Regions from separate parts of the Homo sapiens genome. Here region 2 is linked to region 1. Evidence: fine-mapped expression QTL. Tissue or cell type: cerebral cortex. Region 1 holds a variant in brackets; the other region holds the start of a gene. All regions are shown on one strand. Distances are from middle to middle.

Region 1 (8,052 bases):
TGGGGGTCTCGGCGGAGGAGGGGTGCCGGTGGGGGTCTCGGCGGAGGAGGGGTGCCGGTGGGGGTCTCGGCGGAGGAGGGGTGCCGGTGGGGGTCTCGGCGGAGGAGGGGTGCCGGTGGGGGTCTCGGCGGAGGAGGGGTGCCGGTGGGGGTCTCGGCGGAGGAGGGGTGCCGGTGGGGGTCTCGGCGGAGGAGGGGTGCCGGTGGGGGTCTCGGCGGAGGAGGGGTGCCGGTGGGGGTCTCGGCGGAGGAGGGGTGCCGGTGGGGGTCTCGGCGGAGGAGGGGTGCCGGTGGGGGTCTCGGCGGAGGAGGGGTGTCGGTGGGGGTCTCGGCGGAGGGCTGCGGCTGAGGTATCTCTGCAGAAGGCTGCAGGTGGGGGTCTCGGCAGGGTGTGCGGGGGACAGCCTTCTTGGGCCAGGCAGGCACCTCGAGGGCACCCTGGCTCCCAGCTGAGGGTGGCTGAAGGCTGAAGGGAGGGGATTTGGGTGCCTTGGGATGGGGAGAGGGCGAGGGGGGCCACAGAGACCTGAGAAGCCCAAAGGGCCGGCGTGGAGGGAAGACACAGCTTTGCAGGGGCAGCGTGACGCCAGCACTGAGCTGTTCTGGACAGCGACCCAGGCGGGCAGGGGCCTCCGGCCCTGGAGCGGGTGGGACCCCTGCTGTCCAGGACGTGGGAGGAGGCCCCCAACCTGCACTGTCCGGCTGGGTGCTCGCTGCAGGCACCCTGGGTGGGTCTGAGCGCGGCTGCTTCTCTCCCGCAGGTCTGGTGAAGCTGGGGGTTCACTGCGTCACCTGCCAGAAGGTGGCCATCAAGATCGTCAACCGTGAGAAGCTCAGCGAGTCGGTGCTGATGAAGGTGGGTGGGGCCGGGGAGGGAGGCGGGGCCGGCGGTGGGGTGGGGCGGGGAATAGCACAGGGGTGGGAGCCAAGGTTGTGGGGACCTGCGGTGCTGGATGCGGGTGGGGGGGCGGGCCCTGCAGGCTCCTGGGCCGCCACACCCCTGCTGGTCCCCTGGTAGGGTGCCTTTGCTCTTGCTCCTCCCTCCAGCCCTGCCCACCTTTCTCCTGCCTCCAAGCAGAGTGGGCACCCCTGAGGGGACAGGCTGCAGCTGGGCAGTTCAGTTGCTGCAGGACCTGCTGTGCTAGCAGGCGGGGCTTCAGTGTTCCCAGCTAGAATGGAGAGGAGTTCCCTGCCTCAGAGCACCCCTCTCCTACCAGGGCACAGCTTGGCAGAGGGGAGCTGCACCTTCCTCTTCCACTGGGGCCTGGCCTCCGTCGGCTCCATCCGGTGGTGTCTGGTCACCATGGAGACCAGGCAGGCCCCCTGGGTGGAGGGTTTCTGGGCTGTGACCCACCTCTCAGTGGGGAGGGGGCGGCCCCGGCTGCTGGGAAGCCTGACCCTGGGTGTAGAGGAAGAGGCTGGGGCTCCCAGCTGCTCCGGGTCCCACCCACAGTGGGACCTGGGCTGGCAGCGTGCGACCCTCCCAGCACTGGGGCCAGTCGAGCCCCCTCCTCTCCCTTCCTCTCCATTCGCTCCTTGGCATGCAGGGCTGCGGGTGGGGCAGGACCCGGGGACGAGGCCAGTGGGAGTGGCCAAGAGAGGGGAGGCTTGTGGAAGGTGCTAAGGGTTGGGGACTGTGACATGTTGGGCACCCCCCAGCTGCTGGGGTGTGGAGGAATTAACCAGACTAAACTGGGGAGGCCTGGGGACCCTATGGGGAGGTGGGGGTGGGGTTAAGGGCTGCTGAGGGCTGCCTGGATGGGGCTGGCAGGGTCCCACCCTGCCTTGGAGGAGAAACAGAGGCCCTGGGAGTGATGGGGCCAGGACAGCGCCTGGCAGAGAGATCCAGTGCGGGGCGTAGCTGGGGAGAGTCCCATGCTGAATTTGGGAGGTGCCTGTGAGCCCCGACTAAAGGAGGGCCTGGGGATGCGGGAAAGGGGAGGTGTCCCTGTCACCTGCAGGCGCTGTGCACAGATGTCCGCCTGGGAGGGAAGGACTTGGGGACAGGCTGGCCAACTCGCCAGGGCTGGGACCCCATCACAAGACTGGCCCTAGCTCCAAAGCCTGGTCCACGCTGGCTCCTGAGGGCTGGGACCCCAGGCCGTGGCCTCACTGGCCCCACCACTGACACGGCCACTTCTTTGTGCTGGGCGGAGCACCAGCTGCCCGTGGCCAGGCTTGCATGTCTGAGGGAGGGGGCCCTGCCCTTACCTCGGAGCAGGACTGGGTGTCCTGAGTCAGGTGCCCTCTGGGGTCACTTCTGCCCCTCCCTGGGGCCCTCCCCACTTGGGGGACAGTACCAGCTGGGAGCCTGTGGATGGGGGGCACGTGCCCTGCCCACGGCCTGCACACCTACTGTATGTCCCACACACAACAGGATGCCTGCCCCCACCTCATGGGGCCCACAGAGGCCTGTCCCGGCCCCTCCTCCTGTGAGGCCTCCACCGTAAGGAAGGGCGGAGCCCAGGCACAGCCTGCCTGGAAGGGCCCTGCATCCGACTGGCTGGGAGCCTGGGAGGCCTTATCTCCAACAGCTCCAGGCCCCATTCCTGAGGCTGGGCTCACAGAGAGGCCCAGGCTGCCTGCCTTCCTGGGCAGTGTGGGGAGGGGCCCTCCTGCTCCAGGGGCCCCCAGTCCTCAGCCCTACAGGCTGGTGTCAGCCCGGCGGCCTGGGCTCCCTCCACTGAGGCCCCTGCCCTCTGCCCTCTCCACCAGCCAGGGCCCCAGCTGAGCAGCCCACGTCCCTGCATCCCCCACAGCTGGCACCAAAGGCCCCTGCGTCCCCCACAGCTGGCACCAAAGGCCCCTGCGTCCCCCACAGCTGGCACCAAAGGCCCCTGCGTCCCCCACAGCTGGCACCAAAGGCCCCTGCGTCCCCCACAGCTGGCACCAAAGGCCCCTGCGACCCCCACAGCTGGCACCAAAGGCCCCTGCGACCCCCACAGCTGGCACCAAAGGCAGTGTCTGTGGGGAGCGATGCGTGCCCCAGCCCTGTGAGCGTGATGTTCTCTGGCCTCTCCCATGCAGGTGGAGCGGGAGATCGCGATCCTGAAGCTCATTGAGCACCCCCACGTCCTAAAGCTGCACGACGTTTATGAAAACAAAAAATATTTGTAGGTATTGCTGGGTCTGAAGAGCTGGGGTGGCGGAGGTGGCAGCTGTCGCTGCAGGGGTGGGTGTCTGGGGCTTGGGGAGCACAGGGGCTGGAGGCCAGGGGCGCCTGCTGCATCCCAGCAGCCCTGGCCCTGCTAGCATGAACACCTGCCTGGGTAGGGTCTCAGCCCAGGCTGCTGTGGTCTCTGCTTCTGGACCAAACCGGAGACCTGGTCTGTGGAGGCTCGCAGAGCCACCAGCCTGAGGCTGGCAAGGGGGAACAGGACCTTCTGGAGGGGAGATAGGAGTTTCAGGGCAAGGGGCAGGAGCACCTGGCCCTCCCCACATGGCCACGCTGAGCCTCCTGGCCTCTGCCCAGGACGTCCCCAGCCCTGGGCAGTGAGCCATGTCTCTATCCCTGAGGCTCCCTCACACGAGGCACAGCCACCAGGATCCCGCCCTGGCTGGACCGTGGCTGAGTGTGGCTGAAAGTGTCACCTCCGCAGCCGCTGAGGCCAGCAGAAATCCCTACCCTGTCCCAGGCATGCCTGGCTGTGAACCCCATCCCCCCAGACCCAGCCTCAGGGAGCTCCTGGGAATGGGCACAGTGGTCACTCACGGCAGTCTCCTCTGTGTGCTCTGATGGGGCTTTCTGACAGATGAGGCGCTGCTGCCCAAGGGCTGTCTGGCCTTGAGCCTCATCTGACCCTCGCTGGTCCCAGGGCGGCGGCGTGACCTGCCAGGTGATCCTAGCCGGGCATCTCTGAGGCATCAGGCTCTGAGGGAGCAGGGAACATACAGGGCTGGGCTGGGGGCTGCCCTCAGGGTGAGCTGGCTGAGGGCCTGGCTGAACCCAGCAGCTCCCCTTCCCCCAGCAGCAACGTCCACGCTTGCTCTGGCCTGGGTTTCTGCATTCTCGTGGGGAGCATGTGCAGGTGGCCAGCTCGTGTGTAGCTGGGGAGAGGAAACCCAGGGTTGGGGTGTGGGGAGCCCGCCTGCCCCACCATGAGCAGGGGCTCAGAAACTGTCACCAGAGGACTGGGGGGGCGGGGGTGGTCCTGGCCCTGATGCTGGCAAGGTGGACTGTGACAAGGGGCATGGCTTCCTCATGGTGACACGGTGCCGGTGCAGTGGGGTCCTGGGGAGGCCTTCTCGGAGGGGAGGGCAGGGGAGTGCGGGGGGGATGGGCACAGCAGGCCAAGGCCCAAGAACAGGAAAGAGCCCAGGAGGTGGGCATGGCCGGGCTCGCGGCTTCTCCCGAGGTCTGGCCCTGGGTGTTGTCCCACCCCCTCTGGACACCATGTGGCCTATGCTGAGCCTTGGGCCTGGCCGCCCCCCTGCCCAGAATCCCACCCTGGCCCCCACCACCTTCCCCTGCCCTGAGGGCTTCACACCTTCCTCTGCCCTGAGGGCTTCACACCTTCCCCTGCCCTGGGGGCTTCACACCCTCCCCTGCCCTGAGGGCTTCACACCTTCCCCTGCCCTGGGGGCTTCATATCTTCCCCTGCCCTGGGGGCTTCACACCTTCCCCTGCCCTGGGGGCTTCACCACAACCTCTGCTCCCATCCCCACACTGGGCCCTTGACTCCTGCCAAAACCAGCTCCTGGGACAGCCAGTCATCCCAGTCCGCACGGCAGCTCTGAGCATGCACCAAGGTGCCACCCCCTTGGCTGTACAGCCCCCCTACATCACCACAGCCACACCAGGGGCCACCACCCTCACAGGCCTCCCCCCCGAGCTGGTTCAGCCTGGGTGGAGCGGCCCCCAAGCAG[C/T]TGCATGCAGCGTCCCACGGGCCTCTCACCAGGAACCAGCCCCTCAGGACCCTCCATGTGGCTGAGACCCCACGGGGGCGGTGCTGGGAGCCCACCAGGGCAGGAAGGGGAGGGCCAGGCCAACCTTTTCCTCACCCCCTTCCCCTGGCCCTCACACCTCCTGTTCCCCCCACAGAGGCCCAGACAGTCCCTGGGCCCCTGGATGCGGCTGCGTGGTCTCCCTGCTCGGTGCCTGTGCCACTGAGGACCACAGGGTGTGAGGGCCAGAGCAGGCAGGGCAGAGTCCCGAGGCTACCCCATGCACCGAGCCTTGGCCCCAGCACCCGCCACACTCAGCCTGTGGGTTCCAAACCCTCCCTGGCGGCTGTGCCCCCAGAACCATCCCTTCACCTGTCCCTCCACCCTCACCCCACCCCACCCCAACCCAGGCTCCTTGAAGACTCATTTGAGGTCCACCCCCAGGAGCCCAGATGGTTTGAGATCCACCATAGTCAGGGCTCCTCTCAGCTGCCCCCCCAGCCAGCAAGAGGATGGGGGCGGCCTGCAGAGAGGCTGGGCCAGGAGGCGGCTGTGGGAGGCCCTGGGATGAGGAGGGGCGGCGGGCAGCCACAGCTGGGCGCACTGGTGGCCCCGTCTCCTGCAGGTACCTGGTGCTAGAACACGTGTCAGGTGGTGAGCTCTTCGACTACCTGGTGAAGAAGGGGAGGCTGACGCCTAAGGAGGCTCGGAAGTTCTTCCGGCAGATCATCTCTGCGCTGGACTTCTGCCACAGCCACTCCATATGGTGAGGCCCCACCCCTGGTGCCCCCCACTCCCCAGGGACCCCCACACCCAGTGCGCTACCACAGATGCCCCCTGTGCCCCAAGGACTACACCCCCTATGGTGCTATTCCGAGGTACACCATGCCCCCCATTAGCTGCCCCTCAAGTGCACCATCTCCTCCTCCCCATTAGCTGCCCCTCAAGTGCACTGTCCCCTCCATTAGCTACCCCTCAAGTGCACCGTCCCCCCATTAGCTGCCCCTCAAGTGCACCGTCCCCCCATAGCGGCCCCTCAAGTGCACCATCCCCCCCATTAACTACCCCTCAAGTGCACCGTCCCCCCCATTAGCGGCCCCTCAAGTGCACCCTCCCCCCCATTAGCTGCCCCTCAAGTGCACCATCCCCCCCATTAACTACCCCTCAAGTGCACCATCCCCCCCATTAGCGGCCCCTCAAGTGCACCGTGCCCCCCATTAGCTGCCCCTCAAGTGCACTGTCCCCCCATAGTGGCCCCTCAGGTGCACCGTCCCCCCCATTAGCTACTCCTCAAGTGCACCATCCCCTCCCCCCCATTAGCTACCCCTCAAGTGCACCGTCCACCCCATTAGCTACCCCTCAAGTGCACCGTCCACCCCATTAGCTACCCCTCAAGTGCACCGTCCCCCCATTAGCTACCCCTCAAGTGCACCATCCCCCTCATTAGCTACCCCTCAGGTGCATCATCCCCTCCTCATTAGCTGCCCCTCAAGTGCACCATCCCCCCCATTAGCTGCCCCTCAAGTGCACTGTCCCCCCATAGTGGCCCCTCAGGTGCACCGTCCCCCCCATTAGCTACTCCTCAAGTGCACCATCCCCTCCCCCCCATTAGCTACCCCTCAAGTGCACCGTCCACCCCATTAGCTACCCCTCAAGTGCACCGTCCACCCCATTAGCTACCCCTCAAGTGCACCGTCCCCCCATTAGCTACCCCTCAAGTGCACCATCCCCCTCATTAGCTACCCCTCAGGTGCATCATCCCCTCCTCATTAGCTGCCCCTCAAGTGCACCGTCCCCCCCATTAGCTACCCCTCAAGTGCACTGTCCCCCCCACCCCATTAGCTACCTCTCAAGTGCACCATGTGCACCAGGTGCTTCCCTTTTCCCCCTGAGGACCCCCTGCACCTCCCCTTTCCCGAGTGGGCAGTGTGTCGGGAAGTTTTCTGCCTGGCACCCACCCAAGCACTCTGGGAGCCCCTCGGCCTTTCCAGGGGCCATTGCTTGCATCCCTACGTGCCTGGGGGCCCTAGGTTGGTCTAGGCCAGAGCAGGTGTGCTAGGGAGCAGGAGGGGGCAGGAAGGAGCCTGCCAGGGTGCAGGAGGGCATGGCAGGAGAAACAGGGATGCCTGACCAAAGGCCAGAGCCAAACGGACCAGGCAGGCGACTTCTGATTGGCTGCCTATGACATCACCAGGCTGGGCTGCTATTGGCCCTTATGTGTGATTGGCGTTTGGAGAGGCAGTGGGCTCTGGGCAGGGGGTCTCCAGGGCGGGGAGGCGCTCAAGGCAGAGACTGGCCCTGTTCAGCCTCACCACCCTCCTCCCCAGCCACAGGGATCTGAAACCTGAAAACCTCCTGCTGGACGAGAAGAACAACATCCGCATCGCAGACTTTGGCATGGCGTCCCTGCAGGTTGGCGACAGCCTGTTGGAGACCAGCTGTGGGTACGTGGCCCTCTGCCCTGGAGAGAGGCTGGGGGACAGGCTGGGCTGGGGGAAGAGGAGCCAGTGGACTGAGAGGCCCCCAGCCTGCCTGAGCCTCCCGGCACCCCACAGGCAGGCCCCCCACAATGTGCCTGAGCCTCCCAGTACCCCACAGCCTGGTGGTGGTGGGGAGACAGGCCTCCCGGCACAGTAAGGGTAGGGGTACAGCCCTGGCCCTGGCCTGCCTGGGAGAGAGGCTGGGACCCACTTACATGCCCCTCTCCTGGGGACCCCCTGGCCCCTGCCCAGCCGAGTGGGCAGACAGCTTTGGGCGCAGCAGAGACCCAGTGCCCCACCTTGATCTCCTCCCAAAAGCCCGCCTGGGGATGCAGGGAATGTGGGGGCGTCTGGCACCACAGCCCTGGAGGCCTCCTTGAGGGCCCTGCGGTGCACCATCACCCTGGGGGGAGGGCCTGGCAGCGCCCGGAGCCCCGCCGCTGACCTCTGCCCTTGCCCGCAGGTCCCCCCACTACGCCTGCCCCGAGGTGATCCGGGTGAGTCAGCGCCGCCGCGTGCAGCTCTGTGGGGCCCAGGGTGGCGGGGACCTGACCCTGGTGGGACCCCAGCCTGCCGCACCCCCAGGTGCTGCTAGGCTGCCTGTCCCCGGGCCGACTCCCTCTGAGCCCAGGCCCTCCAAGGCCCCCGCCCTGCCCTGCGCCCCCCAACAGCCCGGGCACTGCTGTCCA
Region 2 (8,052 bases), 89 kb before region 1:
GGGGGTGTATCAGCAAGTCTGGAGCCAGTTCACCCGCAGCTGGGACTAGACAAGCAGGTGAAGGTGTGAAAGCCAGGTTTCTTCAGACAAGAGATGCAACAGGTAAAGCGGCGGACGAGAACAGGCCTGCACTGCTGGGGTGGGCATGGAGGGACCCGCGCTGCTGGGGTGGGTGAGGATGGGCGTGTGCCCTGGGGTGGGTGAGGATGGGCGCATGCCCTGGGGTGGGTGAGGATGGGCGTGTGCCACTTGGGTGAGCGAGGATGGGGCACGTGCCGCTGGGGTGGGTGAGGATGGACGTGTGCCCTGGGGTGGGTGAGGACAGGGCCCATGCGTCTGGGGTGGGTGAGGATGGGCGTGTGCCCTGGGGTGGGTGAGGAGGGGCCCGTGTCACTGGGGTGGGCGAGGATGGACGTGTGTCCTGGGGTGGGTGAGGATGGGCGTGTGCCCTGGGGTGGGTGAGGATGGACGTGTGCCCTGGGGTGGGTGAGGATGGACGTGTGCCCTGGGGTGGGTGAGGATGGGGCACGTGCCCTGGGGTGGGTGAGGATGGATGTGTGCCCTGGGGTGGGTGAGGAGGGGGCATGTGCTGGTGAGGAGGGGGCGTGTGCTGTTGGGGTGGGTGAGGACAGGGCCCATGCCCCTGGGGTGGGTGAGGAGGGGCCCATGCCGCTGGGGTGGGCGAGGATGGATGTGTGCCCTGGGGTGGGTGAGGATGGGGTGTGTGCTGCTGGGGTGGGTGAGGACAGGGCCCATGCCCCTGAGGTGGGTGAGGAGGGGCCGGTGCTGCTGGGGTGGGCGAGGATGGACGTGTGCCCTAGGGTGGGTGGCAGCAGCATGAGCTCACACGGTCAATCTACACACATGTAGATTGTTTGTGCATGGGGGTGAGTACACAGGCATGCATCTTCTGGCTCTGTCCACCAAGAGGGCCTAGACACCGGGATACCCCAGTACCAAAGGAAGCACAGGGTGCAGGTCTCGGTCCCCGACGTCACCCTCCAGTGAGAGGACCCCACAGGCCTCGGAGTCTCGGCTGGCACCAAGGCCGGGGCAGGGAAACGTCAGGCTGAGCTTGGAGCACTCACAGTCCCGGAACGTGAGGAAATGCGTGAACGGGAGCAGGGCTTGTGGGGAGGGGACCTGGGAGTCAAGATGAAAGCTCCCACGCGCCGGGTGATAGTTTACTGGATTGTAACCCACAGAATAAAAAGCCGCGAGCCCACAGTGACGCACACGAACAATTCGCTGAGTGAAGAGTCGGTGTACACGGAGCTGCCCTTTCTCCTTCCTGGCCCTGGTGGGAGAATTTTTATCACAAGTGGGTGATGGGTTTTGTCCAGTGCTTTTCCATGTCCGCCGGGATGGAATAAACGTGACGTTTGTCTGTGGCCCTGTCAGTGTACAGCACGTCACGGATCATCTGCATGTGTGCCCAGGACCGGGGCAGTCACCCAGCAGATACGCACGTGGGACCCGGCTTGGCCTCATGGGGTGGCGGCTGTGTCTTGGTTTTCATTTGGTTCAGAAGGTGGGTACGGACCAGGCATGGTGTCTCACGCCTGTCATCCCAGCACTTTGGGAGGCCGAGACAGGTGGATCACTTGAGGTCAGGAGTTTGAGACCAGCCTGGCCAAAACCACCCATCTCTACTAAAAATGCAAACATTAGCTGGGCCTGGTGGCAGGTGCCTGTGATCCCAGCTACTCAGGAGGCTGAGGCAGGAGAATTGCATGAACCCGGGAGGTGGAGGCTGCAGTGAGCCAAGATCGCACCATTGCACTCCAGTCTGGGTGACAGAGGGAGACTCCGTCTCAAAAAAAAAAAATTCCTTCAGGTCCTGCATACCTACGAAACTGTTGACTCAGCTGGTCCAGAGGACCCCACTGACACACGCTGGCCTCACAGCAAAGAAACAGTTTTGAAAGACATCTTTGCTGAGTTTTCCATGCTCAGCTGGCACTCCCTTTCTCTTCGGAGTTCCTGGCCTCCTCAGGAGTCTTGTGGCCTCTCCAGAGGTCTTGCGGCCTCCTCAGGGGCCTGGTCAACCCTCCTTAGTTATAGGAATGGCCTCATTTGAGGAGATTCCCTCCAATAGGAGGGAGACGCTTGCAGAGCAGGATTCATGAACAATCCGTGTAAGTGCGGGGACGATGCCTGGCATGTTACACTCCAGATGCCGGCTGTCAGTAGCGCCGTCACAGTCACTCATGTCTGTGGTTCGCTTCCCACGCCGGGTCTTCAGCCCCATCTACCCACAGGGCCCCAGACTCAACCCCACCATCTCTGTAAATAGAACCACCAGCCACCCACTGCTTAAGCAGAAAGAGTGCCAGGAACGCTTGTGACTTTCCCCCATCCTCACCTCCACTTCCAAACAATGCTGGGGACCAAGCAGGGGTCATGACCCAGATTCTGTGTTTCTGGCTAATGATTAGTTGGGAGTTCCTTTGGAATAAAACCCCAAGTCCTTGCCACAGCTGGCAGGAGCCTGTTCTGCAAACCGCACCCCCTTCTACGTCACCCTCTCTCTGTATCACAGGGCCCCTCTCTGGTCCTCAGACACTGTGGGAGGCTGGAGGGATCAACCCCAGCCCTCTCTTCCCTACCCACCTTCTGAACTAAATGAAAAGCAAGACTCTGCATGAGCACAGGGGGCCAAGCTGGGTCCTACATGTGGATCAGGCTGGGCGGCCGACCCTGGTCGTGGGTGGGCCGACCCGTGTGGGGAGCTTGGGGAGGGCGGCATCCTTCCGCCCGGGAGGGGAGATTAACTCACACACACAAAGCACTAGCTGGTGGCAAAGGACATGCTTTATCATATACGGCAGAGCCATGTGGGCACCGAGAACCCGAGAAAAACCCAGCTCCCCATGAGAAGTGTGTCTGTCCAGCGTCTGGGGGAGGGGCGTGTGGTCCTCAGGAAGGCCATGCAGGGCGCCCACCCGGAGCTCCCCGGGGATGGCCTCTGCGTGCGGCCTCATGACCTTGTGACCTGGGTCTGGCTCTCAGGAGCACCAGGCAGGCAGGGAGGGCATGCCCTGGAGGAGCCCTGCCTGTGGCCGCATTGCCGTTAGAATTTCAATGAGGGGCACTCAGTTTGATGGATGACTCCTGCGGCCCTGGAGGCCTGAGGCCCCACCTGCTCCGTCTGCTCGGGAGACACAACGTCTTGACTCGGCCTCTGTCCCTTTGTCCTCCCTGCCAGGCCTGCCAGCCCTGCGCTGTGACTCTGCCCTGCAGGCCGGGGGGCCGGGTAGACACCCCTCAGGAAGAAAAGCCTCTGCCTGGAGCCGCTAGCCTGTGCTGGGGGGGGCTTGGAGACCCCAGGGTGTGGGCTTCGGGGCTGCAGATGGCCCAGGCGCTGACCCAAATTCAGTGCTCTCGGGGGTGGGTCTGTGTGTCCCTCCACTGGGCCTCTGGACCAGAACCTTCCGGGGACTCCAGCTTCCCTCTGAGACGTCTCGGCCGACCCAGCCCCTCCTATGCGGCGGCCAGCCTGGGGCCCAGTGGGTAGATTTGCTCCTGTACCATCTCAGGGCCGGTGCCCTGCGGAGGGAGAGGCGCTGTCTGTCAAGCCTCACTCTCTCCTGGCGAGGGCTCTGGTTTTCCAGCCACGTCGCTGCATGGAGAGCAACGCACAAAGACAGGGTCTCAGAGGCCACCTGTGCCCACCCTGGTCCTGCCGGATAACTCCTCCCTTCCCTCTTCTCCGGCAGTCAAAGCCCCCGACAGAGGGAACGATGGCCCCGGGGGACACAGCTCCTTTCCCCAGCTGTTCCCAGAGCACAGCTGGCTTCAGCCTGGGTGCAGCCACATCTTACGGGTCCAGCCCGAGTCCGTCCATTTCTGAGGGTCCTGCTGCCCTCCCCTACCTGCCCCCATGCTCCGCAGAGCCCTGCAGAATGAGAGGGTCCTGGACCTGGCTCCTCTGCCTGGGAGAATCTGACGGCTCCGGGTGCAGTCGTAGCCCCAGGAGAGGCCCTGGCGCCCTGACCCCCGGCAGGCAGCGAGGCTGATGTGGGAGGGCGAGGCCGCCCCGCCCTGGCTCTGACAACCCTCCCTGCACTGCTGCCCAACCCTCTCCCCATGCCTCCTCCACCTCCCCCAGGGTTGGCCTGGGAGCCTCCTCCGCTTCCCCCAAGGTTGGCGCCCGGGAGCCGTGCTCTGGGACCACACTCCTCTTTGGCTCTGGGAATTTCTCCTCCCACGTGGAGGCCCCCACAGCAGTGGACACCACCCAGCCAGGCCCACCTGACCGGTCAGGCTCAAACCCTCTGGTACCCGCCCCACCCATAGGACCAGGTGTAAACCAGGCAGCGACACCCCAGACGTGTGGTCTTGGTCAGCTCCCCTGGGCTCCTCTCCCTCCAGCTGGCCCTTCTCTGCCCAGGAAACAGTTTTCTGAAGAGTTCTCCGTTCTCGAGCCTTCCAGCTGCGTGGGAGAGAGTTGACCCCAAGGCTGGGACCACAAGAGGCCAGGGAGGGTGGGCCTGGGATCTGCAGCTCACGGGCTGTGTGACTGTGGGCACGAGATTTCATTTCCTGATTCATAAAGGTGGGGACCGATCAAAGCTACTCCTTGGACCTTTGTGAAGATTAAATGAGTTCAACACGGAGCATTCTTGACCCATGGTGAGTGTCGTAAAACGCTGGCCACTGTAATTTTTCATTTTCCCTTCGGCATTATGACAATATATCCCCAATGGCATAGGATTTTAAGTGAATGTACCGTAATCTGCCCAACCATTCTTTTACTGTGGACACTTGAGTGATTTCCAATCATGTTTACTCTCATTTGTTTTCTTTTTCTTTTTTTTTTTTTTTTGAGATAGTCATGCTCTGTTGCCCAGGCTGGAGTGCAGTAGTGTGATCTCAGCTCACTGCAACCTCTGCCTCCCGGGTTCAAGTGATTCTCCTGCCTCAACCTCCCAAGTAGCTGGGACTACAGGAACACACCAATGCACACAGCTACTTTTTTTTTAACTTTTAGTGGATACGGGGTTTCACCATGTTGTCCAGGCTGGTCTCAAACTCCCAACCTCAGGCGATCCGCCTGCCTCGGCCTCCCAAAGTGCTGGGATTACAGGTGTGAGCCACTGCACCCAGGCTAGTAATATTGACTCTTAGGCTAGTAATATTGACTCTTAGAGCTAACACTCTAACATGGAAAGGAGAAAACAATTGTTTCTCCTTAGGGATTGTTTCCTTAAAATTTGGCCCAGAAACTATAATCCTGAGTCAAATGGTGTCGATGTTCTCATTATCCTGGAAGAATCACGCTGACCTTGGCTTTAAAAGGTTGAATCACCTCGGACTTGCGAACGGCAACGGGTCTCTCACAGAAGCTCGGCCGCACTGGAATATGCAGATGTGTTTGTTTTCATTAGTATTTCTGTGTTTTACCATTTTTCTGAGCTTACTAATTATGTGTTTTACCGATTTTTCTGAGCGTACTAATTATGTTCTATTTAAATGTTCTCTGTGTACTGATCTGTTGCAAATGTAATTTGTAATTACCGGGATCACCCTCAGTGTGATGTGAGGTCTGATCTCCAACCTCTATGCCTCACTGCCTTTGAGAAATGACCTGTTGTTCCTGACACTCTTGCGAGGTGGGTGGATTAAACCCTCTGCCTCTGCTAGCTTTTCTCCCAGGTCTCACACCTGGACCCCCCACCCCCACCAACTCCCCTCCCAGGCCTCCCACCCAGACCCCCACTCCCCTCCTAGGCCTCCCACCTAGACCCCTGCCCCCACCAATTCCCCTTCCAGGCCTCACACCTGGACCCCCACCCCCACTGACTCCCCTCCCAGGCCCCATGCCTGGACCCCCACCAACTCCCCTCCCAGGCCTCATACCTGGACCCCCCACCCCCACCAACTCCCCTCCCAGGCCTCACACCCGGACCCCCACCCACTCCCCTTCTAGGCCTCCCACCTAGACCCCTGCCCCCACCAATTCCCCTTCCAGGCCTCACACCTGGAACCCCACACCCACCAACTCCCCTCCCAGGCCTTACACCTGGACCCCCACCCCCACTGACTCCCCTCCCAGGCCCCATGCCTGGACCCCCACCCCCACCAACTCCCCTCCCAGGCCTCACACCTGGACCCCCCACCCCCACCAACTTCCATCCCAGGCCTCACACCTGGACCCCCACCCCCACCAACTCCCCTCCCAGGCCTCATACCTGGACCCCCCACCCCCACCAACTCCCCTCCCAGGCCTCATACCTGGACCCCCCACCCCCACCAACTCCCCTCCCAGGCCTCACACCTGGACCCCCCACCCCCACCAACTCCCCTCCCAGGCCTCACACCCGGACCCCCACCCACTCCCCTTCTAGGCCTCCCACCTAGACCCCTGCCCCCACCAATTCCCCTTCCAGGCCTCACACCTGGAACCCCACACCCACCAACTCCCCTCCCAGGCCTTACACCTGGACCCCCACCCCCACTGACTCCCCTCCCAGGCCCCATGCCTGGACCCCCACCCCCACCAACTCCCCTCCCAGGCCTCACACCTGGACCCCCCACCCCCACCAACTTCCATCCCAGGCCTCACACCTGGACCCCCACCCCCACCAACTCCCCTCCCAGGCCTCACACCTCGACCCCCCACCCCCCACCCCTCATCCCCACTGACTCCCTTCCCAGGCCTCACACCTGGACCCCCCACCCCCCACCCCCACCAACTTCCATCCCAGGCCTCACACCTGGACCCCCACCCCCACCCCTCATCCCCACCGACTCCCCTCCCAGGCCTCACACCTGGACCCCCACCCCCAATGACTCCCCTCCCAGGCCTCACACCTGGACCCCCACCCTCACCCCTCATCCCCACTGACTCCCCTCCCAGGCCTCACACCTGGACCCCCACCCTCACCCTCATCCCCACCGACTCCCCTCCCAGGCCTCACACCTGGACCCCCATCCCCTACCCCTCATCCCCGCCGACTCCCCTCCCAGGCCTACACCAGGTCCCCCACCCCCTCTTGCCTGTCACAGTGCCTCCTGGAACATGGAACCCCTCTAGCAACTCCCTAATTTTCTTCTATTCATAGCAAATTGTCTCAAAAAATGTGTCTACACCCACCATCCAAGACCCTGCATCCAAGACGCCCCATCCAAGACCACCCCCTCCTCTAGTCACTATATGACCACCTCTCTGCATCTCATTTCCTCAGCCACCCCTGCTGGTCCTGGGTCTGGACTCAGCATGGCCGTGGCTGCACGTGGCTCTTCTCCCCCTTTCCCAGGGCTCTTTCCAGCCCACGGAGCAGAGTGCCACCTCCCTGCCTACCTCAGCCCCAGTTCCCTCAAAGGGCAAACGTTCCACCTGCCGACCCATTTTCCTGCTTTGGGCCGGCCAGGGCCAGGCCTGGTCTTCCCAGCCCTACTGCGGTGCCCGACCCACAGGACAGCCTGGGGGGCATCAAGCCCAATGCCTCTGAGAGCCTGTGAGTGAGTGGCCTCCATGGTGCTGGGGCCGCTCCAGCCGCCTTGCTTGGCCCCCGGGCCTCCCTTCAGGATCTAGATCACACCCAGACACCCGTCCCTGCCTCTGCCCCAGCACCTCCGCCTGGAATGTGAATCCGCAGCTACCTGTGGAGCCGGCGCCTTCTCTCCGTCCTTCTCACACTGAGGGGCACCCCCAGAGAGGTCACCATGGCCCGAACGTCTATCCCCAGAAATTCTTCTGTTGAAACCTTCACTGCCAAGGTGATGCTATTGGGAGGAGGGGCCTTTGGGCGGGTCTGGCCGTGAGGGTCGGCCTCGTAAATGGATTAGTGCCCAGACAAAAGGGACCTCAGAGAGCCCCTCACCGCTTCATTACGTTCGGATGTGGCCAGGAGGCGCTGGCTGTGAACCACAGTCTGCCGGGGCCTGTTAGACTCACAGTCTCCAGAGCTGTGAGCTAAATGTCGGTTGCTTGAAGCCGCCGACGGGGGTGTTTTGCTGTGGCGGCCGGAGTGGCAGAGACTGGGGAGATCCTGGCCACAAAAGCGGCAGGGCCTGCCCCTCCAGTTCCTGTCTAAGCCATCACCA

The links. PIP is the estimated chance that this variant, and not a neighbour inherited with it, causes the effect.
Region 2: it holds the start of LINC02689, and the variant in region 1 is fine-mapped to the expression of LINC02689 in cerebral cortex (GTEx, PIP above 0.99).

The regions. Positions count from the first base shown.
Region 1 is chr11:1,435,280-1,443,331 of GRCh38, forward strand. BRSK2 (BR serine/threonine kinase 2) reads left to right here. Exons shown (of 20, transcript NM_001256627.2): 2 at 761-855; 3 at 3,027-3,112; 4 at 5,509-5,649; 5 at 7,211-7,327; 6 at 7,827-7,860. Among named protein-coding and RNA genes, the nearest start is that of MOB2, 47 kb to the right of the region's middle. RefSeq lists an enhancer at 1,569-2,307. The variant C/T (reference allele first, on the strand shown) is at 4,866.
Region 2 is chr11:1,346,128-1,354,179 of GRCh38, forward strand. LINC02689 (long intergenic non-protein coding RNA 2689) reads left to right here and starts at 4,180. Exons shown (of 5, transcript XR_930972.2): 1 at 4,180-4,635. RefSeq lists enhancers at 2,447-2,999, 7,280-8,027.